Homo sapiens: one gene and its partner. The protein of the gene in region 2 interacts with the protein of the main gene of each other region in a pairwise test. Each region holds a gene or a part of one and is shown on either strand. Other genes may lie near its edges. The genes, in order: ZSCAN4 and HAT1.

Region 1 (16,345 bases), on a different chromosome or scaffold from region 2:
TTCAAAGCGGCCAGGAATCCAGCAGAGCCATATTCTCACCTTCATTCTCTTTCTCCTTAGATCTTGCTGTCCTCTGCTTACCTACCCTACAGATCAATTTTATTTTTACTTTTTCATTTTTTCCTACATAGGGTGCTCCTCAGCTACTTCTGTCATTCCTATTAGATATCTTTATGATTCACCATTAATAGTTTCAGTAATATACACAATACTCAAATGTTCTTCGCAAATAACCTCCATTCTCCTTACAGATGGTCGCTGCAATTACAGGTGAAGTGATAACCACTTCCCAGCAAAAAGGTGAGATCAGGGAGTTCCAAATCTTTATCTCAGGTTCAGATGTCCTTTCCACACCTGTACAGATGCCGTCACTCCATCATTCTGACACCAGATGCCAAGTGAGTAACTCATGCTTTTCAAGTAAGTTTCAGGTCCTTAGATGGAAACTATCTCAGAAAATTCAGTATTAATTGTTCTCTGTAAAACATTTCTGGGTTTGGAACACGAAAGAGTTTATATAGCAGGAAGGTCATTTGCTGAGAAAACTAGACACACATAGCATCCTGTCTATATGCCACAGATAAAGACTTGATGCTACAGACATGTTAAGAACAGTTAGATGACAATGGTAAGCTCTTGGTACTGTGCAGATACCTGGTGTCTGTGAGAGAGGTGCTGATATGTGCATTTCTTCTGTGAAACAGCAGGTTGTGCAAACTGGAATCTGTAATGTCTCCACATTCTGTCATCAGCAGAAGACTCTGAACATTTTTCTACCGTTTAAATGAGTCTCAATTATCCAATTTATAATAATGCAAATTTTACTTACAGATAAATATGGGGGAGTAGAGGAGGGTTGTGAGTTTCAGCCATGAAAAATTCATGGAGCTTAAAAATTCCTAAGTATCTCACCCTGCAAACAGATAATTATATTTCTAAAAGTGTCTTGACATTCTCATTCTCATGTACTCACAGTACTCTTCTCTATCCTCAAAGTTTCTGAATTGCTTCTCTGTTCCTGTCTCCTCTGTTATTCTGCCTCCCTCCTCCCTTCCTTGCCTAGTTTAAGTGGATTTTTAGCAAACAAAAGTGTTGACTAGAGGCTGTGAGTGAAGGGCATTTTTACCTCCCCTGGCCCCCAGTGTAGATTCCTCTTCTGTCTACACAGAATCCTTCAGATCAGGATAAAATTGAGCCTTCCTTACTAGTTACTACGATTTTTGAAGAATTGGTGTGATTGATAACCACAGCAACAGTGTTTGGACTTTAGAGAAACTTTATTCATGCCCACACTATGTCTACTGACCTACATTTTGTTACTTAAATTCATTTTAAGATTTCTCTTCCAAAAGTTTTCCAGTTATTCTCCTCTTTTGATTCATTGATCCCCTATATTTTTATTTTACCAGTAATTTCATAACTTCTCTTAATATTAAAATATTTTAATGAATATTTGGAATAAACGTATGTGTCTATGGTGAATACTCACTGGGACACACTATACCCCTCCTTCTTCCACAACCTCAACCTAAGGAAGGAACACTGTCTACAAGTGGTGAGGATCCTTCCAGATAGATTTCCATTAATTTACATAAATTTTGCAAGATCTCCCTTAACTCACCTCTGCTTGACTTACTGCTGAGTAAATTCTTTCTCCATATTCCCTTCATGTAACGTGCTAATCAGTGACCATAAATCACACATGATTGTTACTGGTAGAATCAATGCTTTCAACTCCAACACGTCTGTCTCCACAGGTTGATGTATATATTTATCAACAGGGAGTTTTCTCCTCCCAAAAGTAATGCCATTTGCTCTATTTATTCAATGGCATAAGTGGTTTACTGTAATAAAAACTACTAAACTATAATCACAAAAAGGAAAACTTTTTATTTTTATAAAGCCTAAATAAAATGTGCCAGAAACAAAAATTAGAGATTCTTTAAAAATGCTATTGAGGTAAAAGTGAGTGATAAAAGTAGACCTGTATAAATACAAGTCTGTGAATATTCTGTACTCAGAATTTTGACATCTTTAAGTGTTTTAGCTTACTTTAAAGAACTACCATGCTGGGCGCGGTGGCTCACGCCTGTAACCCCAGCACTTTGGGAGGCTGAGGTGGGCAGAAAATCTGAGGTCAGGAGTTCAAGACCAGCCTGGCCAACATGATAAAACCCGTCTCTACTAAAAATAAAAAAATTAGCTGGATGTGGTGGTGCACGCCTGTAGTCCCAGCTACTCAGGAGGCTGAGGCAGGGGAATCACTTGAACCTGGAAGGCAGAGGCTGCAGTGAGCTGAGATTGCACCACTACACTCCAGCCTGGCCAACAGAGCGAGACTCTGTCTCAAAAAAAAAAAAAGGAAAAGAAAAAAAGAACTGCCAATTGTAAATTTGTAAATCATGTTTAATTATAGTTTATGATAGAAAATAAAAGAAACATAAAATTTCTTACAGAAGAATTTAACCCATAACAAAGTTTGAGCAAAGTAATACAAGCTACAATTAAAATAAGTCATTTCAATTTCATTTGAATGTGAGCCAAACATTTTATGTTTTTATTTTTTTCTCAGGATTATATCTTTTTATATGTTGTATTTTTTTCTTTTATCTGGCTATTAACAATAGTAAAGTGATTGATAACTTTCTCTTTTACATTCTATGTATTTAAATATCTTATTTAGATTATTTTAATTTGCAATTATTTTTCATTAATATTTCATTTTATTAAAAATTGCCTTTTTTCAGTGTTTACATATTAATGGCTTACTTATCCAAGATTGTAAAAATATACAAATATTTTTACCGCTGAGAGATTTGGTTTTTTGTTTGTCTGTTTTTGTTTTTTGAGAGGGAGTCTCACTCTATTGCCCAGACTGGAGTGCAGTGGCACAATGTCAGCTCACTGCAGCCTCCTCCTCCTGGTTCAAGTGATTCTCCTGCCTCAGCCTCCCATGAAACTGGGACTACAGGCTTGAGCCACCACGCCCAGCTAATTTTCGTATTTTTAATAGAGATGGGTTTCACCATGTTGGCCAGGCTGGTCTTGAACTACTGACCTCAAGTGATCCACCTGCCTTGGCCTCCCAAAGTGTTGAGATTACAGGCGTGAGTCACTACACCCAGCCTAAGACTATTCTTTACTTTGGGTTTTTTGTTGTTGTTGTTGTTTAACAGGCTGTCATTTGTCACCCAGGCTGGAGTAGAGTGGCACGATCTCAGCTCACTGCAGCCTCAACCTCCTGGGTTCAAGAGATCCTCCTGCCTCAGCCCCTTTTCTGCCCCTCACCCCCCACCCCCAATAGCTGGAACTACGGACGTACCACCACTTCCAGCTAATTTTTGTACTTTTTGTAGAGACTGGATTTCATCATGTTTCCCAGGCTGTCTCCAACTCCTGAAATCAAGTGATCCGCCCGCCTCGGCCTCCCACAGTGCTGGGATTACAGGTGTGAGCCACCGCACCCGGGATTGTTATTCTTCACTTTGAATCCCACATGTTATTTAAAGCTAAGACCTGAGGCAAAAAAAAATCACTTCTATATTTCAACTAATACTATTTTATTACTAGGTAATAAGTCCCAATATTTACATTTATGTACACATACACACACATTTCCTTTCTATACCATTAAGATAATGGTAGACCTTTATGTCAGGAAAATGCTATAGGCTGGGGGCGAGTGGCTCACGCCTGTAATCCCAGCACTTTGGGAGGCCGAGGCGGGAGGATCACTTGAGCCTAGGAGTTCGAGGCCAGTCTGCACAACGTGGTAAAACCATGTCTCTAAAAAAAAAAAAAAAAAAAAAAAAAAATTAGCTGGGCGTGGTATCATGAGCCTGTAATCCCAGCTACTTTCAGCTACTCGGGAGGCTGAGGTGGGAGGATTTCTTGAGCCTGGGAGGCAAAGGTTGCAGTGAGCCCAGATCCCACCACTGTACTGCAGCCTGGGTGACAAGAGTGACAACCTGTCTCAAAAAAAAAAAAAAAAAAAAGCTATTGGTAATTGAATTTATCTTTATTGAACAAATCCTCTTCATTGCATGCTTTAAATTTTGATTTGTTTAAATTTTATTGAATTGTAATAAAACGATTTTGAAATTACTAGAGAAGCCCAGGCGCTGTGGCTCACGCCTGTAATCCCACCACTGTGGGAGGCCAAGGCAGGCGGATCACCTGATGTCAAGAGTTCGAGACCAGCCTGACCAACATGGTGAAACCCCGTCTCTACTAAAAACACCAAAAAACAATTAGCCGGGCTAGCTGAAGGCACCTGTAGTCCCAGCTACTCAGGAGGCTGAGGCAGGAGAATGGCTTGAACCCGGGAGGCGGAGGTTGCAGTAAGCAGAGATCGTGCCATTGCAGTACAGCCTGGGCGACAGAGAGAGTCTCCGTCAAAAAAGAAAAAGAAGAGAAAAGAAAAAGAGAAAGGAAGGAAGGGAGGAAGGGAGGAAGGGAGGACGAGAGGAAGGGAGGAAGGGAGGGAGGGAAAAGAAATTCCTGGGCAGATGAAAGTGAGGGGTCGGGGGTCGGGGTCGGGCGCGGCGATGCCGCAGCTGCGGGGCTCGGTGGACTCGGCGAGCAAGAGCCCCAGGACGCTGCTGGCGGCGGGCGAGGAGCTGGGGCGCGGCGCGGGGCGGCTCTAGGCGCTGTGGCCGCTCAGCGTCTGGGACCCAGCGCCGCCCAGGTCAGGGAATCCTTGGTGTTCCCGCCCCGCAGCACCCGGGGCGGGGGAGGAGTCGGCGCGGTCGTGCGGCCGTGGAGGACAGCGAGACCCGGGGCTGCGGCTGCAGGCCGAGGGGCCCCTGGGACAGTGAGAAGCAGCGGCGGGAGCTAGTCACGGGGCAGGGAGCGCTCAGCGGTAAAGACGGCTTCATCTGACTCCAGGGCTGGCAGGCGGCCCGGATGGCATGCCGTCTCCTGCGGAGAATTCCAATTTCCCCCTAAATCGCTCAACAAGCGAGAAGGTTTTGGGATTCGAATTCAGTGGGGCAAGCGAAGTCGCCTTTCCTTCTTAAACAGATGGAATCCCTGGTCCACAAACGTACCCTGTGCCAATTTCATACAACACGCTATGGCTGCTGCGGATGAGAACACAGCAACTCTGCCAGATGAAAAGCTTCAAGGCTCTGTGAATCCAAGGTCAAAAACGCCAAAAAGGAAAGTCCTTTTCCAGGACAAGCGCACGCGTGCTGGTCGTGGAGCGCCCCCTCCTCATGGAGACCGGCCTGGGATTGATGTCCTTCATTAACAATGAGGCTAAACTGGGCTATTCCATGACTGACCAGGGGCAAAATAGGCTTTTAGCCAGCGGCATTCTGGGAGCTCTCCCCACTAAGAAGGCCAAGGGATGTGGGGTCTGAGAGCCTGGCAGTCCTCATGCAAAGCCGCTGCTGGCTGGAAGCATAGGGGTCTTTTACCTTTTGGGATCTCTGCACGATTAGAATAGTAAAGTGGATAGTAATTGCATATTGCACTCTGCTAATGCAAGCTACAGACAAAAGCAAAAAGAATCTAGCTGCCACTGTGCTGCTAGGATTCCATTTTCTGTAACTTCAGTTCTGATACTTTTCCTGGAGTGTATCTACTTGGCTTCTGGCGGTTCTTCCCATCCCAGCCACTCCAGCAGGCTAAATCCCGCAGCACACCCCTTACCATTTGTGTAGGCTGCTAAATACAGGGAGGCACCTGGTATCTCCAGTGTCTGCAGACACAAATATGTTTACACTTGGTGTCAAATTTTGTATTTTAAATTTTAATACTTTTTTTTTTAAAGCTCATACAAAAGCAGCCAGCAGACAAGTTCACTGACATCAGTCTGCACCTGTCAGCTCCTGGGTGAATCATTGTTCTTTTGTAAATGTGTGTTTGACCTAAAGTCACCCTTTTTCTAAAATTAATCCAAGGCCGGGCGCGGTGGCTCACTCCTGTAATCCCAACACTTTGGGAGGCTGAGGCGGGTGGATCACCAGATCAGGAGTTCGAGACCAGCCTGACCAAAATGGAGAAACCCCATCTCTACTAAAAATACAAAATAAGCTGGGCAGCCCACGTCAGTAATCCCAGCTACTCCGGAGGCTGAGGCAGGAGAATTGCTTGAACCCGGGAGGTGGAGGTTGTGGTAAACCGAGATCGTGCCACTGCACTCCAGCCTGGGCAACAAGAGTGAAACTCCGTCTCAATAATAATACTGATACTTAAAATATCTTTGCGAGGCCCAAGTAGGTTTACAGAAAATCATCTTAGGACAATTTTTTAATTTGAGAAAGTCACTTTGGCAGTTCTTTGCACACAATTTTGACAAGTGTATGTATTATAAGTTGTATTGTATTCATATTTAAAAGGAAATTGGGTAGTTTGCCTTTTGAAGAATGCGCTTTTTAAAAAGGAACCATATCAGATCCTTATGAAGCAGCCGATGCCTGCCATGGTTCCTACAGGTCCTGTACAGACTCGGGGCTTTGTCCAAGTCTCCACTAAACATGCTAAGCTTCGATGCGCCCTGGAGAATTTCCACGGGGTGATCCACGCACCTCCATGAGATCCTGCAGCTTGCTTGTATGACTGGAAGCATTGGATAAGCTTCGCGTGCTGGCTCTCCAGTTCTTTCCTTCTCTTTACGACTGTTGTAGCTTTTAGCTAATGGAGTGGTGCGGTCCAAGTGCGGCCACCTACGGGAGGTGCAGGGCTGCCTCGGAAGCTGGCAGGGGACCCCAGTCTTTGCGTTCATAAAGACATTTAGAACCGGATGAATGTTGTTCCTTTTTTGAAGTTGTTATTAAAGTAGGTGCAACAACCAAAAATCAATAAATAATAAATAAATTGACTAAATATTTTTTCTCAAAAAAAAAAAAAAAAGAAAAGAAAGTCACCAGGTGTGGTGGCTCACGCCTGTAATCCCAGCACCTGGGGAGGCTGAGGTGGGCGGATCACCTGAGATCAGGAGTTTGAGACTATCCTGGCCAACATGGTGAAACCCCGTCTCTACTAAAATACAAAAATTAGCCGGGTGTGGTGGCGCATGCCTTTAATCACAGCTACTCTGGGTGCGGAAGTTGCAGTGAGCCAAGATCGTGCCACTGCACTCCAGCCTGGGCGACAGAGCAAGACTTTGTCTCGAAAAAAATAGAAAGTTAACAGTTTTGTTTATTTTCCTACCAGGTTTTTATTATTATTATTATTATTCTAATTGAAATCACTGTTTCCTACATACTGAGGCGGATTGGCTTTGTCTTCTTGGAAACAAAGGTTATTTTCCTCACTCACACTGGAGCGGGGATACTCACCAGACACAAGTTGAGATGATGCTGGATGTAAACGGGTCATCTATTTTTACCAAAGGCAGCACTACCTGCCTTCCCAATTGATCAGAAAAGCATTTGATAGTTGTCTTTGTAATATCCTTATTTGATTAAATTACTATGTGGATTTCACATTTATTTTTATTGTTTTGTGCCTGTTTATTCTATGCCTAAGTTGGGGTATCACCAGGTCATTTCCTCCACCATCTGTGTTTCCCCAAGGATAAATCCTCCTGCTCATGCCCTTCACTCCTCCATTAGCCCATTCCCTAGAAAGCTGCTGGTTTTACACAGTGGCTGTGTGTCTTTGCCTTCTTAATGTAGCATTCAGAGTCCCACTCTGGAGCCAGGTATCAAATCCTAGCCCAGCCACTTACAGGCTATGTAGCACTGGCCAAGGTACTGAACTTCTCTGTGCCTCTGTTATTTTGATGTTAAAATGGAGTTATTTAGGATCTACTTTACAGGACTGTTGTGATGGAAATGGGTTAACATACAGAAAGCACTGAGAACAGAGTCAAATATGCCCTGACTGCTTAAAGGTTAGTTATTATGATCCCTGATGCTATTACTACTCTTACTGATATCATCGTGCCTCAGGTCTAACTGCTCCCAGAGTTACACACCAGCATGTCCAACAGCTGGCTGTATATCTGAACTCAAAAATCCAATAACCTCCTCCAAACAGAAATTGCCAGCTTTTCCCCAAACCTTTTCCTTACAGCTCCTTACAGAGCTCAAGGAACTCCTTGAGACTGCAGAAGCAGACAGGAAATGCTTTCAACCCACCACAAATTAACAACTGGCCTCCAGTGGTACTCACATTGTCTACATTTTTCATTGTTTTTTTTTTGTTTGTTTTTTGTTTGTTTGTTTGTTTGTTTTTGAGACAGAGTCTCACTCTGTCGCCCAGGCTGGAGAGCAGTGGTGCGATCTTGGCTCACTGCAACCTCGGCCTCCCAGGTTCAAGTGATTCTCCTGCCTCAGGCTCCCGAGTACTTGGGATTACAGGTGCCTGCCACCATGCCTGGCTAATTTTTGTATTTTTTTAGTAGAGACGAGGTTTCATCATGTTGGCCAGGCTGGTCTCAAACTCCTGACCTCAGGTGATCCACCCGCCTCGGCCTCCCAAAGTGCTGGGATTACAGGCATGAGCCACTGCGCCCAGCCCATTTTTCATTGTTGTAGCAGAGAAGTATCCCTGCTTCCATCAAGAGCCAATTTTCCTGTCACAGTTGGTTTAATGACATAGTTGGTGACAGGACCTAAACCACCAGTGGAAAATTGGCTCTTGATGGGAGCAGGGATACTTCTCTGTATGGAGTATATGTGGATGAAACTCCTTGGAGAAATGGACTAGTACACAGTCTTATAATGTGAGGATTCAGAACATAATTCCTAATGTGGGGAAGTCAAGCAGACATTTCATCAGTGGAGTACCAGGAGATTCAAACTCTGTACCCAACAGTGATAGGGGGACAATCTAAGCCCCAAGAGGCTGCATGCCTGATGGAGCAGATGAAACACATGGCTGTAATTAGCTCCCACCCCTTCGATACGTTCTCAACTCCACCAAAGCCTCAGCCTGTATGAGGGTGGAAAGTGGGGAGGGAGAGTGCAGGGAAGAAGGCACAGCTTCCACCACACTAGGTGACCAGGCGCTTCTCACCATTTTAACTCCTCCATCTCTCTCAAGCCTCATGTTAAGTCTATCAAACATCATATGCTTTCTCAATATAAAATATGCACCAATTTCTCCCTTTCCACTGATATAATCCTAGTCTCAACCCCTGTCATCTTTTTGATGGATTAGGAATGCCTTCTCTGGGTCCCGGGCCCCCTCTGTTTCACCAGCCTGGAATTGGCACAGGAGTCACAGCATTAGCCTTGCCCTCTGCCACCCTTGTAATTCATAAATCTCTGAAAACTTAAAAGTTTGAGCAAAAGTTTGTCATGTTTCTATGAGTAATTTATAATAAAACTTGATCAGAATTTGTGAGACTAACGTTTGTCTTTATATTTTCCTTTTTTTTTTTTTTTTTTTTGAGACACAGTCTCGCTCTGTCGTCCAGGCTGGAGTGCCGTGGCGTAATCTCGGCTCACTGCAACCTCTGCCTCCTGGATTCAAACAATTCTTCTGCCTCAGCCTCCTGAGTAGCTGGGATTACAGGTGCATGCTACCACGCCCAGATAATTTTTGTATTTTTAATAGAAACCGGGTTTAACCATGTTGGTCAGGCTGGTCTCAAACTCCTGACCTCATGATCCACCTGCCTCGGCCTCCCAAAGTGCTGGGATTACAGGCGCGAGCCACCACACCCAGCCTGTCTTTATATTTTCATTTAATGTGGACCTTGTTACATTTTACCGCAGATTTTGTATTTTTGTGTGTGTTTGTTTGTTTGTTGGTTTTTGAGACAGTCTACCTCTGTCGCCCAGGCTGCAGTGCAGTGGCACAATTTCAGCTCACTGCAACCTCCGCCTCTGTGGTTCAAACAATTCTTCTGCTCAGCCTCCTGAATAGCTGGGACTACAGGCACGCGCCACTACGCCTGGCTAATTTTTGCATTTTTAGTAGAGATGGGGTTTCACCATATTGGCCAGGCTGGTCTCGAACTCTTGACCTCGTGATCCGCCCACCTCGGCCTCCAAAAGTGCTGGGATTACAGGCATGGTTTTTTTTTTGTTCGTTTTGTTTTGTTTTTTTTTTAGAGACTTGGTCTCCTTCCATTTCCCAGGCCAGAGTTCAGTAGGGCGGTCATAATCCACTGTAGCCATGAACTCCCTGGCTCAAACAAGCTACACAGACATGCCACCATGCCTGGCTAACATTTTTAACATTATTTTTGGTAGAGACAGGGTCTTGCTTTGTTGCTCAGGCTAGGGATTCACAGAGTCTTGCTCTGTCTCCCAGGCTGGAATGCAGTGGCGCAATCTTGGCTCACTCTAGCCTCTGCCTCCCAGGTTCAAGTAATTCTCCTGCCTCAGCCTCCCAAGTAGCTGGGATTACAGGTGCCCACCACCATGCCCGGCTAATTTTTGTATTTTTAGTAGAGAAAGGGTTTCACCATGTTGGCCAGGCTGGTCTTGAACTCCTGATCTCAGGTGATCTGCCTGCCTCAGCCTCCCAAAGTGCTGAGATTACAGGTGTGAGCCACTGCACCTAGCCTGCAGAAATATTAATGTGTTTGTTTATGACCTGTTGACCCAGGACCAGTGATGGTATAGAACACTGTATTAGAGACATGGAGCTGGGGCTGGATGAAGATTCCATCAGTAATTCAATCAACAGACAAGTGTTATCCAATCACGTCTTTAAATCAATCACTGACATGGAGCTGGGGCTGGATGAAGATTCCATCAGTAATTCAATCAACAGACAAGTGTTATCCAATCACGTCTTTAAATCAATCACTGATCCCAGCCCCTATAAAAGGGAGCAGCCTTAGGAGGCACATCAGATAAACCCAGTGTGGAAAGCTAGTCACACATCAGCTCAGTGTTCGGCCCGGGATTACCCAGTCAACCAAGGAGGTAAGCTTCCATAATGGAAGGAAAATTTTGTGCCTTTGAGTGTGTATACATTTTGTGTCTTTGAGTGTGTATACATAATTTTGTGTCTTTGAGTGTGTATACATGTGTATGTAGGCATAGCTATTTCAGGAAAATTCCTAACTACAGAGATATGGGGGTCTCCCAGGTGTAGGGAATGGTCTTTTGTTACAACAGCTCTGACCCAAAAGGGCTTGATGTTGTGAACTCTGTATAAAGGCCTGGTGTGACTGAAGATTTTTCTTCAAAAAGTCTATCGTATGACTTTATGTTCTAGTAATTCTTTTTTTTTTTTCGAGACAAGATCTCTATCACCCAGGCTAAAGTTTAGTAGCCCCAATCACAGCTCACTGCAGCTTCAGCCTCCCCAGGCTCAAGTGATCCTTCCACCTTAGCTTCCTGAGCAGCTGGGACCACAGGCGCACACCACCACACCAGGTTAATTTTTCTATTTTTTGTAGAGGCAGGATTTTGCCATGTTGCCCAGTGTGGTCTCAAACTCCTGGCCTCCAGTGATTTGCCCACTTTCAGCCTCCAAAAGTGCTGGGATTACAGATGTGAGCCACTGTGCCCAGCTTAGTAATTCCTTTGTATTGCATTATATGAAATATGTAGCTGGGTGTCATTAGAGATCATAAAGCCCAGGATACAGACCCAGACCTGACGGGTAGCATGCCTGCGTCACAGTTTGTAATTGCCAGACTCCAGATTAGAGCTCCGGTAGCCTTGTTTTGAATTCCCAGGTTCTGGGAAATAAGCCATAATACTTTGCAGTCTTGTCTATGTGGGACGGAGTGCATGTCTCCAAGTGTGAACATGTGGTCTGTGTGTCATAGGGGAGAAAGGGTGGGTAATCCAAAAAGAGAACTTGGAGGGAAGTGAAATGAAGGGGAAGCCATGGGTTCCACAGGAAAAAAAAAAAAAAAGAGAGAGAGAGAGACCAATGTCCCTGGATATAGAGAACCAGCCACAACACCTAAGATGGAGCTTGAGAAGTGTAGAGCTGGCCCAGGAAAGCCTCGTAGGACAAGGACTCAGTGCTTTTCCCTGAGGGCAAAGGGGAGCCATCCAGAGAGTAGAGTGGGGTATGATGTGAGCAGATTAGCATTTTATAAACGTTGACTGGAAGCATTATGACAACTGGGTTAGGGAAAGGCAAGAATGTGTTCCATTGTCTCCTAGGAGATTTTACCAGGATCACCTCTGCCTTATTAACTGATGCGATCAGGGTAGCAGATCTGGTCTAATCAGACCAGATGAGATTAACACAAAGCAGGAAATAACATTAACTAACAGAAATCAGTTAGGTTTTTGTGTGTCCACGTATTACTCCTACCATTTTCTGATTTTATGGCATGAAATTTGCTTTTTTCAAAATTGCACAAATCTTTGAAATGTTAACCATATATAAAATTGGAGAAAAAACACAAAAATAGCAATGATATATTAACAGAAAAGGGATTAAATTCTTTATCCATTCAGGATTTCAAAGGGTGTGTCTCTAGTTGTCCAGATAATCTGATTTGGGATTAGAAATCAATTTCAAGCAATGCAAACTCACTTTTACTTCTGAATCCTAAACATCAGTAGGAAAGGACAGGGAGTAAAAACAGATAAACATAAAATAGTAGCTTTGGTTAAAGCAGTAAAGTTCTAAGGAATGGTAACTGTTAATGGGAAAAAAATTCAAGCAGAAAAGGTGCTAAGAATGTTTCCTAAGGAATGTATCCTTTCACAACACAGTGGGTGTAGCTGGTAGTGGCCTTGCAGATGTCTGTGCCTAATAAGTTTTCAGCCAGAGAAAGGTGTCATTTGTATGGATTCTGGCTTGTCTTTTCTATTTCATTCACTTCTTTCTCTTTTTCTTGTTTTCCCTAGCTTTATTGAGGTATAATTGACAAAGATTGTATATATTTAAGGTGTACAATGTGACACTTCTCTCTCTATATATATGTATACTTTGCAAAATGATTACCACGATCAAGCTAGTTAACATATTCATCACCTCACATAGTTATCTTTTTTTTTTTTTTTTGAGACAGAATCTTGCTCTGTCACCTAAGCTGGAGTACAGTGGCGTAATCTCAGTTCACTACAACCCCCACCTCTCAGGTTCAAGTGATTCTTGTGCCTCAGCCTCTCAAGTAGCTGGGATTACCGGTGCATGCCACCACACCCAACTCATTTTTGAATTTTTAATAGAGGTGGGGTTTCACCATGTTGCCAGGCTGGTCTTGAACTCCTGGCCTCAAGCGATATGCCCACCTCTGCCTCCCAAAGCACTGGGATTACAGGGGTGAGCCAATTATCTTTTTTATATCATGAGAACACTGAAAATCTAGCAAATTTCAAGCATACAATATATATTAGCTATAGCCACCATGCCGTACATCAGATCTCCAGAGCATATTCATTTTTTTTCCCTAGCCTGAGAAGGACATGGTGACATTTAATTAATTAATTTATTTATTTATTTATTTTGAGATGGAGTTTCACTCTGTCGCCCAGGCTGGAGTGCAGTGGCACGATCTCGGCTCACTGCAACCTCCATCTCCTGGGTTCAAGCGATTCTCCTGCCTCAGCCTACCGAGTAGCTGGAATTACAGGTGTGCACCACCACAGCCAGCTAATTTTTGTATTTTTAGTAGAGAAAGGGTTTCACCACGTCTCATCTCAAGTGATACGCCTGTCTCGGCCTCCCAAAGTGCTGGGATTACAGGCGCGAGTCACCGTGCCCGGCCACATATTTATTTTATAAATGAAAGTTTGCCATAGGCATAGTAGCTCACGCCTGTAATCCCAGAAAGGCTAGAGTGAGGAGCAGTCACTTGAGTCCAGGAGTTCAAGACAACCTGGACAAAATAGCGAGACCAAGTCTCGAAAAGAAAATTTTTAAAAAATTAGCTGAGTGTGGTGCGTGCCTGTAGTCCCAGCTACTCAAGACGCTAAGGCAGGAGGATCGCTTGAACCCAGGAGGCTGAGGCTGCAGTGAGCTGTCATGGCACCACTGCACTCTAGCCTGTCTGACAGACGGAGACCCTGTCTCAAAATAAATCAAGTTTGCACCATTTGATCAACATCTTCCCATATGCCCCACCCCATGCCCCTGGCAACCACCCTTCTACTCTCAGTTTCTAATACTTTATTTTCTGATGATGATGATGATTATTATTATTATTATTATTATTGAGACAGAGTTTCTGTGTTGCCTAAGCTGAAGTGCAGTGGCCCAATCTCAACTCACTGCAACCTCTGCTTCCCAAGTTCAACCCATTCTCCTTGCTCAGCCTCCCGAGTAGCTGCGATTACAGGCATGCACCACCACATCTGGCTAATTTTTATATTTTTAGTAGAGACGGGGTTTCGCCATGTTGGCAAGGCTGGTCTTGAACTCCTGGTTTCAAGTGATCTGCCCGCCTCGGCCTCCCAAAGTGTTGGGATTACAGGTGTGAGCCACAGTGAAAAGAGTTTTTTTGTTTTAATTTCAACTGCTTGTGATAACACAATATTACAATATTCAGTTCATTTTGGTTTATTGGCATTGTAATAGACATCTCCCTAAATTCACCTAGGCTAATATTTGGTGAATATTTTATTTTATTTTAGATTCAGGGAGTACATGTGCATGTTTGTTACAAAAGTATTCTGCATATTGGTGGAAATTGGACTTCTAGTGTACCTATTACTTAAATAGTGAACATTGTACCCAATGGGTAATTTTTCAATACCCATTTCCCTCCCAACTCCCCCGCTGGAGTCCCCAGCATCTGTTATTTCCATCCTTATGTCCATGTGTACCCACTGTTTAGCTTCTACTTATAAGTGAGAACATGCGGTATTTGGTTTTCTGTTTCTGAGTTAGTTCACTTAAGATAATGGCCTCCAGCTCCAACTATGTTGCTGCAAAGGACTAATTTCATTCTTTTTTATGGCTGCATAATATTCCATGGTATGTATTTCACATTTTCTTTATCCAGTCAACCACTGGTAGACTCTTAGGTTGGTTCCATGACTTTGCTCCTGTGACTAGTGCTGCAATCAAAATATGAGTGCAGGTGTCTTTTTTTATATAATGATTTCTTTCCTTTTGAGTAGATACTGAGCTGGATCAAATGATGGTTCTATTTTTAGTTCTCTGAGAAATCTCCATACTGTTTTCCATAGAGGTTAACTGATTTGCATCCCCACCAAATTTATTGAATACTCTTTGTAAACAAAATCAAGACTCTATAAATATGTTTGAAATATTTTCTTTCCTTATTTCACTGGTTAGGGAGCAATCCAATGTTTCATAGAGATGATAGCTCAAGCAGAAAACTTTTAACAATAAATTTTGTTGTAACTACTTTATAAAATATTTTTCACATCAAGTTTTTTTTTTTTTTTTTTTTAAGAGTCTCACTCTGTCACCCAGGCAGGAGCTCAGTGGCATGATCCTGGCTCATTGCCACGCCCACTTCCCGGGTTCAAGGGATTCTCCTGCCTCCACCACTGAAGTAGCTGGGTTTACAGGCACGTGCCACCATACCCAGCTAAGTTTTGTGTGTGCGTGTGGCTTTTTTTTTTTTTTTTTTTTTTTTGAGACGGAGTCTTGCTCTGTCAGCCAGGCTGGAGTGCAGTGGCGCAATCTTGACTCACTGCAATCTCCACCTCCCGGGCTCAAGCAATTCTCCCATCTCAGCCTCCTGAGTAGCTAGGACTACAGGTGCATGCCATCATGCCTGGCTGATTTTTGTATTTTTAGTAGAGATGGGGTTTCACCATATTGGTCAGGCTGGTCTCGAAATCCTGACCTCAGGTGATCCACCTGCCTCAGCCTCCCAAAGTGTTGGGATTACAGGCATGAGCAACCACACCCGGCAAGTTTTGTATTTTTAGTAGAGATGGTGCCTCACCATGTTGGCCAGGCTAGTCTCGAACTCCTGACCTCAAGTGATCCGCCCTCCTCGGCCTCCCACAGTTCTGGGATTATAGGAGTGAGCCACTGTGCCCAGCCAAGGATATTTCCTAATAGTTCTAGTTTATTAAGTGCCTTTTTCAGGAATAAACATTGGCATTTAAACATTTTAAATGCATTCATTGAGATGATTTTATTATGTTCTTGTATCCATATCCCGTTAACGAAGTAAATTGCATTGATTTTTGAATTTTAACCCAAACTTCCTGCATTTTGGAAATGAACACCATTTGCGATGTATATGTGAGTAGATTTTATTTTCAAATATTTTGTTTTGGATAATTTTAATGTATTTGTAAAATTTTGTTATCAGGAAGTGCTGACCTCAGTAACTAAAGTGGGTAGTGCTTCCTCTTATATGCTCTGGGAGAGTTTATGTTAAGTTATAATTATTTCTTTGAATTCATCCATAGAGCCATGTAGGCCTAACTTTTTGGTTGATTTGTCTTTAATTATGCCAGTGGTGCAATTAATTACTCATCTCTTTTCTATTTCTAGCTTGCAGTTTTAAAGAATCCACCAACTGTTGAAACAA
Region 2 (15,872 bases):
GGCACGCACCTGTAGTCCCAGCTACTTGGGAGGCTGAGGCAGGAGAATTGCTTGAACCCGGGAGGTGGAGGTTGCAGTGAACCAAGATCGCACCACTGCACTCCAGCCTGGGGGACAGAGGGAGACTCCGTCTCAAAAAAAAAAAAAAAAAAAAAAAAAAAAAAAAAAAAAAAAAGAAACTGCATTGCTAATACTGATTTAAACTAACATTTAGTGTATGTGTGTATGGCTGTGTGTGTGTATGTGTGTGTGAATCTGTGTGTTTTTTTGAGACAGAGTCTCACTCTGTCACCAGGGTGGGGTGCAGTGGCAGGATCTCGGCTCACAGGTTCAAGTGATTCTCCTGCCTCAGCCTCCCGAGTAGCTGGGACTACAAGTGCATGCCACCACGCCTGGCTAATTTTTTGTATTTTTAGTAGAGACAGGGTTTCACCATGCTAGCCAGGATGGTCTCGATCTCTTGACCTCGTGATCCACCTGCCTCGACCTCCCAAAGTGTGTGTGTATTTTTTAAGACAGGGTCTCGCTCTGTCCCCCTAGCTGGAGTGCAATAGCGCAATCACAGCTCACTGCAGCCTTGACCTCCTGGGCTCTAACGATCCTCTCATCTCAGTCCCCCAAGTAGCTGGCTGGGACCATAGGTGTGTGACACCATATCCAGCTAATTAAAAAAAATTTTTTTATAGAGACGGGAATCTCCCTATGTTGCCCAGGCTGGTCTTGAACCCCTGAGCTCAAGCAACCCTCCAGCTCAGCCTCCCAAACTTCTGGGATTACAGGCATGAGCCACTGTAACCAGCTGAGTGAAATTTTAAGTAACTTCTATACCCTCAGAAAAGTTTAGGAAATAGGTATCATAGGAAAATGAGTTACAGTTGAGAAAAACTACTCAGGCCACATTTTTACCTGAAATTTTCACATAAGTCAAAAAACATGCAAAAAAATTTCCAGTTTTAAATAAGCCATTATGACTGATAATACTTTGTTTGCAGCTTAATATAAGGAACCAAGTCACCACTCAATCTTTAAGCCCTTTGAAAGTGTCAGTCTGAAATGAACTTAAAACGACACCCAATAATGTATGACATCCTTCAATTCCTTTGTTTCTATGCTACAAAGATAAGCAACATATTTAAAGATAAAATTTTCTTGAATTTAAATCTACAATGATATGCAGGATCAAAAACTGAGTTTTTTCTAAATGTAATACATCATCTAGCAATCGTTTTTTTAAAGCTTCTCATATTAACATACATATTAGTGATAAAAAATCATATTCTAAAGAAGGGAAATGAGATAACAGCACAATCACCTAAGTTATAAACAATTCACATAATATTCTAAAAAGCTATATGGCACATCCCAGAACAATAAAGTACATTTAAAGGACAAATATAATTAGCTCTTAATGTACTACTGATAGATAATAATACTGATATGTATTCCAGCCCAGAATCGATTTCTATTGCCAAATGCAACTCCTTTCAGAAGTCCAGAGGAAACAAGATCATTGATTCTATTTATAAAGTTATACAACTGAGATGTATTCAAATGCTGTACATCTTAAGAGAATAGTATCTTCAAAAGGCAGATGGTATACAAGGAATTGTCTGCCAGTATTTTACCTTAAAATTGAGTGCAAAAAAATGAAAATGGGTGGCAATTATACCACAAACACCCATCCATTGGAAGTAAGATATAACTTAGGCCATCTACAGGAAGTTTCAATTATTATTAGATCTGGCTATCTGTCAAGTAAGCAAAAGGCCATCTCAATATAAAGAATATTCTGGATTGCAAATGGAGATCCAGAGCCTGCAAAAGAACCACAAAGCTAAAAAAGCACACACAATAATGGAGAAACAGGCAACTAAATGACAGAAGAGTAGAAAAATCTGCAGTTTTGTTTTTTAAGGACTGGGTATGGAAATCTAGGAGAAATAAATATCTTAATGAGAACAGCTGATAAGGCATTTTTAGTATTTTTAAATGCTGAGAAATGTTAATGCTGAAAATAAAGGCCAATACCCAGTTGTCAAATTCAGAAGTCCTTTAGCATGTTTAGTCTTTTCTTTTTAGAGACTTCAGTTTCTAATGAATAACACCAATGAATAAAGGCTACCATTATTGATGACTCTTCACTGAGATTTAAGAAATAAAATTCTTTATCTGCTAATTGGTGCTAAGTATCAAGGACTTTATTGGTTGGAGTAGACAGAAGAAAGTGGTTAAGAGGCTTCAGAGAAACAACCCCTGCTGGCACATTACCCACTAGAGTAGACAAAGACTACTTATGTGAACTCCACATTAAAATCACCAAAAATGTCCCTTCATGTAGCAGCAAGTCTAAGCTCTATAAGTTAATAGAAGCTAAACAATTTTCTGCTCAACTAAAAGAAGTGACATAGTCTGTATTATGTTTCTACAATTTTATAAGTCACTAAGCTAGTGAAGTTGTCGCTTAAACAATTTATAACTTTTGTTATAAACGAAGTTTAGTAACTACTACTTTATCTCCTGAGTTTCCAACCCATTTAACAGTAGCAGGAAAGTCAGATGAAAAGATAATTCACCTCTATAAATGTGAAACTCCCTTTTAAAGACAACGTGCTTTCCCTCCAGTTTATTATTCTACAGATCAATTCACTGTTCTGAAGCAACTTCAATTTTATTTACCTTGGATTACTAGTCTATATAAAGAAGGATGAAACAATCTGCTTACTAGCCTATTTATGTGGTTGCCAGTCTTACAACCATTTTTTTTTTGGTGGGGGTGGGTGGGTGGGAGGTGGTGTCTTTAAACAAAATTCCCAAATAGCATTTTTTAACATGTTAATGTTTTAGTGCATGTTAAATAGTATAGTTTGTAACAAAGATGTATCCAAATTCAAACTTGTAAGATTAATAAATTTTAATACCAATTTGCATGTAACTATCTGGTAAAGTATTTTTCAATAAAAGAAAAAGGTAACTTTCAGTTTCATCAGCAATTTTATGAACAACAAATTTGAAAGTTAGAAAATAACATAAATATTCCTTGGGCCACTTTGTTTTTTGGTGGATCACACTTTAACATATTATCTGAAACTCCATCTAATAATGCCTTCTCCTTTTGAAGAGTCAAGTCGAGTAAGTCGAGTAAGTCGTCTTTCCTTCTCCTAAGCATTCTATTCATACTACTACTTCTATGGCTAATCCATACTGAAAGACATTTCCAAAACAAATAGGCCTACATTTCACCTTATCTACTACTGTTGTGAAGGCATGCATTTTAGGAATACAAAACACACACTTTAGGAAATGTGTATTCTATTCAAGAAGTATTTACCTTGACTTTTTTTCTCAGTAAAGTTTATAATATTCTGCCCCTACATGTAAATTAAAGTGCAGGCTGCCTCTAAATAATGCAACTGTTTGCCAAATAAAGTGAACAAATAAGTTATACCATACTTTCAACGTATTTACGCCTGACCAAGACTTCCCCATATATATTCAGCTCATTATCTTCAATTTGTTCCATTATGCACTTCACAGTTAGGGATGTAATCCAATCCCCACAAAGGCTTATGCTCTAAAACATAAACTTAAGCCATCTTTAGATGGCTTAAACACCCTAGGAAAATGTTGCTGTTTAAAATAGTTATTTCTGACAAAAATAAAATCAATCAGTAAGAAGACATTTTTAGAAAGGCTCTTTCAGTAACAAATCAAATTTTACATACCTGTAATATCAAGAACTGTAGGAAATTCAGTGTAGTATCTATGAACTGTTTCAAGAAGTTGAGCACCATGGCCTTGACCTTGAAATGGAGTCAAAATCAGCATCTGACTACAGTAAAGAAATTATTTTAAAATTAAAATATCATAACATGACCAGTTTAAAACCTGCAGATCACTATAGTATTACAAACACTTTAAAGTTTGTGTGATCTTTTTTTCAATCCACCTTTGAGATACCCAAAAATTATCAAGATACTCAAAATTAGTTTAATCTTCTACACTGTTTCAAAGGGAACAATGAAATAAATCAGTACATAGCCCATGAATAATAGTGATTTTTTTTTTAAACAAATCAACACTATTATAACAAGTATTGGAAACTTCAGCAGTTCCTTCTTCTGAAATAAAAGACAAGGCACGTGTTATACTGCCAATTACCTTACACGTGGCCGGGTTTTGTCTGGGTACACATAGTAATTATAGACTGTCATGTAGCCTACGGTCGCAAAGAGCGTAGCTCCATCCTTATTATACTTCTCAAATCTGCAGATAAAACAGAAAGCCAAGCAGGTCAATTACAGTCGCGCTCCCATGCAGTGTCCATTTTCTTTTCCATTCTCTGACTGAATTTTCAGTGTCAGCAAGCTACTCTGTGAGGGCCCAATGGGTACACCTGCTATGTTCTGAATGTACAATTCACTTAATTGGTGTGCAGCAACTTGGATAAATCAGACCTCTTTACATCACTTCAGTGCACTTGCCTATTATAAAGATGAATAGGTGGCAAGTAAAAGAAAACACAGGCAAAGCTCATTTTACTGTTTAAGCCTACATTCAGGGCCCTAACGGACAACAGCATTTAATTCAGCTCTATTCTCAAGGTCTCCCAAAGCATAATGAAGGAAAACTCAAGCCTCATAAACAATAGTTTTTCTTTCCTGGGAAAAATATCATTATACTGTCCCAATAATTGGGCTGCCACAATTAAAATGCTGGCTTTGTGGAGGTAATAAGGTCTACTGTTGCTTTAGAACTGTACTTACACTAGAAAGTAGTGCCATCTTTCATCATCCACGTCAATAAAGCTAGCAGTTTCAATAAACCACATCAAAAAGGTCTGAAGCCTTTCATGATATTCTCGAAAGCCTCTACATGTCATGTCAGCCTAGGGAAAAAGCCAGGAAAAGTCAGGTGAAACTCATCACAAAGGTAAGTGAAAGTCCGCAGAACACAAAATTATCCTGTGGGAAAATGTTTAGAAGTCTCAGATTAAGATGTGAACATAGATACAGACATACACACAAAATAGATCTTGGTTTATAATGCTGATTAAAACTTGTTTACTGCAGTTAGAATAAATCACTGACAACAAAACTACATACAGGTTTCAGGCAAATAGAACTTTACTCAATAAATATTTAGATTTATCTTTACCTTATATATCTGAAAGGTAAAGTTTTCTCCTCCTGTTGGACTGAGAACTGAGTAGGTATGAAGTAAGGTTCCGAATGGCTTGAAATCAACTTCCTTTTCCAGTAAAGAAAGGAAATCATTCGTGTTTGTGCAAAATCCAGGTGGAATGATTTGTCTAATTTTGCCCTCAACATCATCTGCCTAAAGAATAAAGGATATAAAAAATTAATAACAAATTCGACTTTAAGTTGAATATGGTTTATTTCTTTAAAACTGACAAAACCAACACAAATTACAAAACTTTGGTTGAAAACTAAAGAAGTAAACACACAGCGAATTGGAAAAGGATGAGCTTCCTGTGCACAAACTGCATCACACAAAACTGAGATGAGCATAATATAAAAGTAAATAAGAGAAGGCAGGTGACCTGATACCAAGTACAATAATAAGGGCAATGCTATGGACATTTCCATTATGCAGAAACAGCTGACTATACCCCTTCATGACAGTCTGAACTGGCCAAGGCAAAAGGTTGCTTATTATTTTATATGTGTCAAAGAAATCATATTATCCAAGACATGAAAAGATCACCAGCAGTGGTGAGATGAGACTAGAGTCTGACCAAATGAATAGCAATCTCACAACTAGATGGGTCACAATTCCCTCATATGCCAAACTCAAACTAAGATGATAACTTAAAAATATACATATTTAGGAAATAACATAAATTATATGAATGGATATATCATTCTTTTATCCTTAGAATGTGACACAATTCTTACAGACCTGGATTTGTGACAGTAAAAAAGAGACAAGACTGGACAACAAAACTAAACTCGGAGATTAAAATTACCCTTGTTAAACAACCTCTATCAATGTTATCAGCTGAGCAGACTTCATAATCCTTTTCAAAATCCCAAAAGACCACTTGATTGAATACATTTACTACTTCTCTTTAACCATGAATATTTGATGAAGTCTTACAATAAAGTATTGCTGCTTCTCACCAGGCAATAAAACTTAATGAATTGGTCTCAACTTAACAAAACCTTATCCCTCAATACAGTCCCTAAAAGCCTGACATTACATTCAACAAAATGAGCTTGTATTCTATTCAAACTTTTTCCTGAACAATGAGGCCAGGTTTTTACTTAATGGAGTTTGCCGTGAGTTCAGCTGTAATGTTTGTATTGTATCTATTTCCACAAGGACTGACACAAGAACACTTTGTGTTAACTTACTAAGCAGCTCTTTCATACCGTTTACATGCATGATGGGTATTAGTTCTAAACCAAGACCCTTGCTACTTAGCATTCAAAACAGGGAAATTAAGATGCTTAGGACAAAATACACTACAAAAGGCTAATACAACATGCTACTAATTCCTATCCTTTCAACCATCTTTTAACTAAGTAGAAGCAATGCACCTGCAGATGAATAGCACTTTATTATGATTCAGTTACATTTCAGGATAGAGAACCAGTGATGACGTTTATCACAAACAAGTTTTATTTTCAATGCTCTGGTACCACCAACATTTATATATAATTTGTTTATAGGTATAAAAAAGACCTATTATTGAAAATATAGCTCTTCAGCATTTTGCCCAACAGTTTATTTCTAATATGTACATCAGTCCTTGCAACTCATTCACACTCTAGATCAAATAAACTGCATTTCATAGGACAGTTTTTGCTTATTTTTAAAGTACTATTTGATAAATATTTTTCCTTGAAATTGCTAACATGAAGAGGCCATCGTAAGCATATTTTATAGTATCAGTACAATTTCAACAGCTATCAAGGAAACTGTCATAATGAGGGATAGCTGTAATAGATGTGTTGTGTAGCAATTAAAATCCAAAGTAGTGATGAGTAAAACAGTATAGTATGTTAGTTAAGGTTTTTAAAAAGCCAAGAAAAACTACTTTTAAAAAGGGATTTATAATCTATCAGTTTAAAAATCACTTTAAGACTTTCATAGCATGTATAATTTTAACTTTTAAAAACTTTCCTTATGTCCTGTCTTCTCAAGAAGGCATTGCAAATCACTTTACATATCTTGTATCAAATCTACTTCAAAGACTTCTCAGAAACTCTAAGTTTCAAGTAGCACTTTTGGTGGCGGGCAGAGCAACCAGAAGGTTTGAGCCCAACAAAGTTGAAAAAGGGCTTTCAGCCTTCAAAGGATGTCTATTTCCTGTAATAAATATCTTCAAATAAAATAGTTTGCTTTGTGTAAGTTTACACATTAAGAATTTTTACGGGGCAAAGGGCAATTTTAAAGCAAGGAATCTTTATATAATTATATAAATATATATTTATAAATAGTTATGTATATAAATATGTATCTGATATACTTACATAAAATATACAACTTAAAACCAAATAGTTCTTCAACCTAGAATTTACAACTTCGCTTCACTAAAGGGAAAATGTCTGCATTTCTCTATTAAATGGATTCTGCTTTAAGAAAAAAAAAAATCCTGACTACCATGTCTTAGAGATCTGTACTCTTTTCTCAAATATATAATTTAGTTTAATTTAAAATATTCGTCTTTCAGATTGGATTACTGATCAGATAATAAAATCAGCACAAGAGCAAGACCTCATTTAATCATTGTTAATTGAATAGAGTTAAAAATGAACAGAAACTTTTTAATTCCAATGTTTGTGGCTAAAAGTTTAGAATCTATTTCTGAAGATCACTGAAAAATTCCCTGTATTCCAGAGCATTATTCTAAACTTCAACTAAAATTATACAGAAATATAGAAAGGGTAAGAAATTCAGCTGACTAGACACACCAGGGAACTAGAATTTCAAAAAAATTTTTAAAAAGACACCAGGCTGGGCATGGTGGCTCACACCTATAATCCCAGCACTTTGGGAGGCCAAAATACGCACATCACCTGAAGTCAGGAGTTTGAGACCAGCCTGGCCAACATGGTGAAACCCTGTCTCTAATAAAAATACAAAAGTAGCTGGGCGTGGTGGTGTGCACCTGTAATCCCAGCTACTTGGGAGGCTGAGGCAGGAGAATCACTTGAACTTGGGAGGCGGAGGTTGCAGTGAGCCAAGACTGCGCCACTGCACTCCAGCCTGGGTGACAGGGTGAGACTCCGTCTCAAAAAAAGAAACCAGAATACAACCTGATATATTTAATTAACAAAGACATCTCTTACAAATGGTTTCCTAACGCTTGGTAATTTATTTTTAAAAAGGAAAGTGCAAAAGTATTCTAGTTAGATATTCTGGTAGGTGGGTCATTATGAAATATTTTTAGATTGTATACTATTTAACTATGGTCATTTCAAGTTCCAGTGTTCTGTACTTTATTACACATGAACATGTTCATATGGAGCAATTTTTGCATTTCCTCATTATTGAATAAAGCGATATGCCTGATAATTAGTAATCTATTTTTTTAATGTTTATATTTGTATTTATACACATTTGAAAACCCAATAACCTCTCTAACATCTTATCTTAAGCAGCACCATTTGTCTAAATTTGTCTAGTTATTTTTGAGATTGAAATTAAAGGCACGTTAAGTAGGTGGTAACATGTTGTTCTTTACTTGGCTAAAGTGGTACATAGACTTAACTATAATTCTAAGACTACCTAAAATATGCTAAAAAAAAAAAAAACAAGCAAAAGAAATTCTGTATCTACTTAATGTTCTCAATCTCATGTTCTCTGATAATATTTAAGCTTTAACTACAGAATGTATTGTTGAGAAATTAAAAGTGTGAACTTTTTCACTAATGGAAAAACAAAGGTCATATTATGTTTATTTACACTGCATTAGTATTTTGCTACTTGAACTAAACAAGATAAACTTGTCAATATATACTTTTAAAGCTCTTTATGATATTTCATAAAAAGTATTACTTATCAAGAACACCATCACAATTTGAAATTTTACTAGTCTACCAAAGATTTTTTCGAAATTTCTGGAAGTATGTAGGATTTTCCTAGAAAGAGGCTAAACACTCCATAAAATTTTTAAAATCTGCTCTCATATCCTCTCAAATTCAATCCAATTAGTGGGACACTAGGATAAAATAACTGAAATTCACAGTTAATACAAACTTTATCCATCTATTTCAACTTCCTGTACCAAACTTTTCCCAGAAATGCTAGCAATTAGCAAGACAACAATCTTAGTTACCCACTACTTCACTAAAAGGCAATGAAATTACCCCCAAGAAAAGGCAGGAGGTTTTTGTTTTTAAGACAAGAGTCTTGCTCTGTCACCTAGGCTGGAATGTAGTAGTGTAACCATAGCTTACTGCAGCCTTGACCTCCTGGGCTCAAGAGATCCTTCTGTCTCAGCCTTCCAAGTAGCTGGGACTACAGGAGCATGCCATCATGCCTAGCTTTTGTTTTCGTTTTTTGAGACAGAGTCTTGCTCTGTCACCCAAGCTGGAGTACAGTGGCGCGAACTCGGCTTCCTGCAACCTCCACTTCCCGAGTTCAAGTGATTCTCCTGCCTCACCCTCCTGAGTAGCTAGGACCACAAGCACGCACCACAACACCTGGCTAATTTTTGCACTTTTGGTAGAGATGAGGTTTCACCATGTTGGCCAGGCTAGTCTCAAACTCCTGACCTCAAGTGACCTGTCCACCTCGGCCTCCCAAAGCGCTGGGATTACAGGTTTGAGCCACCACGTTCAGCATTTTTTTTTTTTAATAGGCAGGGTCTTATTATGTTACCAAGGCTGGTCTCAAATTCCTGGCCTCAAATGATCCTCCTGAGTCAGCCTACAGAGTAGCTGGCATTACAAGCACAGAGCAGGAGGTGTTAATAAAAGCAAAGGTCAAGGACAACCAGATGAAAAAATCATCAGTGTCTGAATAATCAAGTTTATTGTATTGTAAAATTCAGAATTATGTTTCCTTTAAAGATGGTGGCTAGTAGAGATTTTATAGGCATCTTAATTGTGACTGAAGAATTTTAGGTGCAACTAGAGCATTCAGCTTGGAAAAGTAAAAGAATGGATGATTAAAAATTAATGTAATGACATAATCCTAATAAGAAATAACTTCTAAGCAGATGTTATGGCTGCTGACCATCTATGCAGTATGATCTGCAAAGCCCTAATATATTAGACTCAAACCTAACATCCAAAATAAAATTTTTTTATTGTTTCCACTTAAACCTATTTCTTCTATAGTTTTCCCAGTTAACAGTACCATAATTGAACTTGGGCAATGGGGTTCTCGTTTTTTTTCTTCATCTGTCACATCTAATTCAACAGCAGACCTCCAAAATGTTCCTTACTCTGACAACTAAGTCCAGTGTCACCTCTAACACTGCAATGTTCCGGTCTCTTCTTTCACTTTTGCCCTATACAGTGTGTTCTCTGCACAGCAGCCAGAATCATATTTTAAAAATATAAATCACATTGTTTATGACCTCCACCTACTTAAGAATGCCTCTAAAGAATGCCAACTACTCTTATTTCTTGCAAACACCTATCACAGAACACAAGATCCTATATGATGATCTAGCTTTGCATCCCCTTCAACCATCTCCTACCCCTCTCTCCATCACCACAATGATTTAACCCTGGTAATCTTTCTGGACTACAAAAATGCCAAAAATGCTGTATTTTTAGAGCCTTTGTATCTTAGTAAGCTTTACCCTCAGATTATAACATGGCTGGTTCCTCCTTTATCATTCAGAAATGAGCAAAATGTATCTTCATAATACTGCCTGAATTTAATTTGTGTATTTACTATTTTGTTTACTGACTGTTCCTCTTGGCTAGAATGTAAGCTCCATGACTTTGTCTGCCACTGTATCGCTGGCATCAACAACACAGAAGGCACTATGGAATGAACACTCACTGCAAACTGAGATAGAAGAAGCAAGCCCATGACCCACATATCCCCTACCCAATCGTTTTTAATAAGGGGAAAAAAGTCTTTGTTTGAATACGCAATATAAATGATCTTTGACCACAAAGCAAATAAGTAACTCTACAAAGAGACATTATAAAAGATTGATTCCTTATTCCTAACACAGTATTTCTAAATGGAAAAACCTAATTTTCAAGAATGGAACAATTAGATGTCAATGCAAATACACAGCTATTTTCACTGCATGAAATATTTAAAAGATTTATCTATAACTAAATCAATAGTTCCTTTGGAAGAAATCAATTCAGTGCTATCAGCTGCAACTGTAAAAAACAAAAACCCTCCAACAGTGGGTTTACACACAAGGAAAAACATCACCTGCATTTTTAATAAGAATATCTAGCTGGGCTTGGGTCTGGAGAATTTAGCAATCTACATATTTGATTATGAAAAAACTCTATTTTAATAAATGTGTTAAATGCTAGTTTATCTAAGATTACATCTTTTCAAACATCAAACCACTACAGTATTACTCAGAATCACTTTTGTATCTGCACAATTTCAAAAGTTATCCTGGGAAACAAACTATATAAAATAAAACAAATATTAAATGTAGTTACATATTATTTATCTGGCAAGCTCAGTCATCTCAAACATGGCTGGGAAGTGGGGAAAAACACACAAAAAAACCAAATAGAACTCAAAATATTTCTAATACTAAAGTTGAATAATGAATATGAAACTACTTCAGATCTTTTTCATGCTATGCACAATTCATATTATATGAAACTATTTCAGATCTTTTTCATGCTACGCACAATTAGTTTTATAGATGGGGCATAGGGTTGGCAAAAGAGGTAAAGTCAGAAGTTAATGTCAGTTTAAAGTCCTGAAAAAGTTGGTGGCATTGTTAATGTTTTAGGAACTGCTACTTCTGCAAAAGAAAGTTATGACATACAGTATGAAGTAATCAGATTCCATCAAGCTTACCAATATGGTATTTTTAACCATAAGGGGTTTGCTAGTGTGAAGCTCCTTACAATGATAGCAGTAAACTGGGAGCACATGGCATAAAACACAGGAGAAGGCTGGGTACGGTGGCTTGTGCCTGTAATCCCAGCATTTTGGAAGGCCAAGGTGGGAAGATTGCTTGAGGCCAGGAGTTTGAGGCCAGTCTGGGCACTATAGCAAGACCCCGTCTCTACAAAAAATTAAAAATTAAAAAAATATTTTTTTTAATGAGGGGGAAAAACACATGGTCAAAAGGGGAAAGATACCTATGTAACAAACGTGCAAGTTCTGCACATGTATCCCAGAACTTAAAATTAAAAAAAAAAATAACGGGAGAGAGAGAGAAAAAGCAGTAAGCCCAAGAGCCTGGATCCTCTTAGAACAGGTCATAAATATTCCTAACATCTTTTAATCAGGATATTATTATATATTATGCATAATAACACTAAATAATCATCTCCTAGTACAATACTGATTATTTACTAGTTGTATGACTTTGGGCAAAACCTTTAAATATAACAAATCCCTCAAAATTTAAATAATAAAAAAGGGCCAAGTAAGTCAGTTCCAGTAATGAGAGGAGGTTTTAACCAAAAATATAGATGGGGCATAGGGGTGGCAAAAGAGGTAAAGTCAACAGTTAAAATCAGTTTAAAGCCCTGAAAAAGTTGGTTTAATTGTTAATTCTTTAGGAACTGCTACTTCTGCAGAGGAAAGTTATGACATACAGTATGAAGTAATATATTTCATTTTCCATACTTGTGTCTAGCACAGTATTACCAACAGTATATCAGATATAATTTACTAAAACTTGCTGGATTAATAAGTGCAAAGAAAAGAGATTTTGCTATAAGAATTAACTTTCAATTTTATAAATATGATTTAGTGACAAAATGGGATTTAATCTTTAAAAAAATCAATGGTGAAGTTTCAATGCCCTTAAATGAGGAATGCTCGGAAACAGAACAAGCCTAAAATATAATTTTCTTAAGGCCCTCAAAGATTCATGTCCATCCCACATGCAAAATACATTCATTCTATCCAAACATTCCTAAAAGTCTCAACCATTACCATATCAACTCAAGCCCAAAATCTCATCTAGATATAGTCAGTTCAAAAGTCACACCTCTCATCATAGGTAAGACTGTGGGTATGATACATCCTAGGGCAAAATTCCTCTCCATCTATGAACCTGTGAAATTAGAAAACACAGTATCACTTCCAAAAGACAATGGTAGGACAGGCATAGGACAACAGTTATAGAATCTCTCATTCCAGAAAAGGAAATGGAAGGAAGAAAGGAGCCACTGCCACCAAGCAATTTCAAAATTCAGCATGGCAAACTCCATTAGGTTTCAAGGCCTAAGAATAACTGTGGCCTGCAGCTCCACCCTCTGGACCCAAAGCTTTGCCCTCAGAGTCATTCTTCCACTTTCTTTAAAGGTAGCACATGTTGGCAGCTGAGCAGTTTTATTAGCCTGTTTCCTGCCTGTGAAATTTGGAGAGTTCATACAGCCTTCCTTCATTTTGTCCTGTCAATCCAAGCTGCACTATAAAGTTTTAATTCTCAAAACCCTTGAGTCGCCTGTGTACGTCATGAGGGTTCATACCATTAGACAAGAGGGTCCTCCACAAATGTTCCCCAGATCTACATTCCTAGCTTTTTGCTGAGACAACTGAGGAGATCCATGAGTCACGTGCCTAATCCCTTCAGCACTAGCAAAAGGTTATCCTGTCACACTCACGGCTTTCTCTCCAGAACACACTTTCCACCTTCCTGACAATGAATATCCTAACTAGTGTCTTCTACAATCTGGATAGGTTAAGAATTTCCCAAATCATCAAGTCCTGTATCCTTTTTGTTTAACAGTTCTTCCCTCAATTTATCTCTTTCATCACTTTACTATAAGCAGCCAGAAATCAGGCCACACCTCCAATACTTTCCATGAAAACCTCCTCAGCTAAACATCCAAGTTCATTGCTTACAGTAAGTTCTCCTTTCCACAGAACTGCAGGACATAACTCAGCTAGGCTTTCTGCCACTATAGAACAAGGATATCCTTTTCTCCAGTTGCCAAATACATGTTCCTCATTTTATTCTAAGCCCTCACCAACCAGAGGCAGTTCTTTTGTTTGTTTGTTTGTTTTTTGGAGACAAGGTCTGGCTCTGTCACTCAGGCTGGAGTGCAGTGGCACCATCTTGGCTCACTGCAACCTTCACCTCCCGTGCTTAAGCCAGTCTCCCACCTCAGGCTCCAGAGTAGCTGGAACTACAGGCACACACCACCACACCCAGCGTGTGTGTGTCAGCGTGTGTGTGTGTGCATGCGTGCGTGTGTGCGTGTAGAGATGGGTTTTCGCCATACTGCCCAGGCTGGCTTGAACTCCTGAGCCCAAGTGATCTACCTACCTTGGCCTCCCAAAGTGCTAGGATTACAAATGTGAGCCACTAAGCCTGGCCTTTTTTTTTTTTTTTTTTTTTTTAAAGACAGGGTCTCACTGTCACCCAGGCTGGAGTGCAGTGGCATGATCATACTTACCTTACTGTAGCCTCAACCTGCTGGCCTCAAATGATCCTCCTGCCTCATTCTCCTCAGTAGCAGAGGCACTTTTTTTTTGAGACAGAGTCTCGCTCTGTTGCCCAGGCTGGAGTGCAGTGGCGCGATATCGGCTCACCGCAACCTCCGCCTACCGGGTTCCGGTGATTCTCCTGCCTCAGCCTCCCGAGTAGCTGGGATTACAGGCATGCGCCACCATGCCGGGCTAATTTTTGTATTTTTAGTAGAGACGGGGTTTCACTATGTTGGCCAGGCTGGACTCAAACTCCTGACCTCGTGATCCACCTGCCCTGGCCTCCCAAAGTGCTGTGGGATTATAGGCATGAGCCAACGCATCCAGCTCATGTTCGTGTTTCTACCAAAACTAAGTTTATGACTATATATATATTCTCTAAGATGATACAGGTGTTCTCTCCTACACTCCTAGCTTCATTCTGAGCCCTAACCAACAGTCCATTATTTCCTTTATTTATTTATTTATTTATTTTTGAGATGGAGTTTTGCTTTTGTTGCCCCGGCTGGAGTGCAATGAATGGCGCGATCTTGGCTCACTGCAACCTCTGCCTCCCAGGTTCAAGTGATTCTCCTGCCTCAGCCCCCCAAGTTGCTGGGATTACATGTGCCTGCCACCACGCCCGGCTAATTTTTGTATTTTTAGTAGAGATGGGTTTCACCATGTTGGCCAGGCTAGTCTCAAACTCCTGACCTCAGGTGATCCTCCCGCCTTGGCCTTCTAAATTGCTGGGATTACAGGCATGAGCCACTGCGCCCAGCCCATATTTCCTTTAACATCCATATTTCTACCAACAGTCCATTCAAGGTAATCTATGCTTTTTCTATCATGCACCTTCAAAACTCTTCCAGCCTCTACCTATTTCCAAAGACACTTCTACATTTTTAGTTATTGGTTATAGCAGCATCCCACTTCCTGGTATGAAAACCTGTATTCGTTTCCTGTGGCTGCTATAATAAATTACCACAAACTTGGTGGCTTAAAACAATATTTATTCTCTTACGGTCTGGAGGTGTTCTGAAATCAGTATCACTGGGCTGTAACCAAGGTAATACACTCCCTCTGGAAGCTCTAGGAGGGAATCTGTTCCTTTCTTCTTCCAGCTTCTAGTGAGTAAGCATTCTTTGGCTTCTGGCCATATCACATCTGCCTCTGTGGTCACACTGCCTTCTCCTTTTCTGTCATCAAGTTTCCTTCTGTCTCCCTCTCATTAGGATACATGTCATTACATTTAGGTCCACCCAAATATTCCAGGATAATATCAAGATATTTAATTACATCAGCGAAGTGCT

Evidence for each region.
Region 1: the proteins of HAT1 (region 2) and ZSCAN4 interact in binary tests that used the Homo sapiens proteins (3 or more experiments, as listed by UniProt).

Annotation. Positions count from the first base shown.
Region 1 is NC_000019.10:57,659,733-57,676,077, forward strand, and holds the start of ZSCAN4 (zinc finger and SCAN domain-containing protein 4), read left to right. Parts: upstream 1-9,202; 5' UTR 9,203-9,471; intron 9,472-10,512; 5' UTR 10,513-10,835; intron 10,836-16,308; 5' UTR 16,309-16,345. UniProt on the Homo sapiens protein: Embryonic stem (ES) cell-specific transcription factor required to regulate ES cell pluripotency. Binds telomeres and plays a key role in genomic stability in ES cells by regulating telomere elongation.
Region 2 is NC_000002.12:171,954,800-171,970,671, reverse strand, and holds part of HAT1 (histone acetyltransferase type B catalytic subunit), read right to left. Parts: intron 5,335-15,872; coding exon 5,155-5,334; intron 4,886-5,154; coding exon 4,764-4,885; intron 4,264-4,763; coding exon 4,159-4,263; intron 3,830-4,158; coding exon 3,723-3,829; intron 1-3,722. UniProt on the Homo sapiens protein: Histone acetyltransferase that plays a role in different biological processes including cell cycle progression, glucose metabolism, histone production or DNA damage repair. Coordinates histone production and acetylation via H4 promoter binding.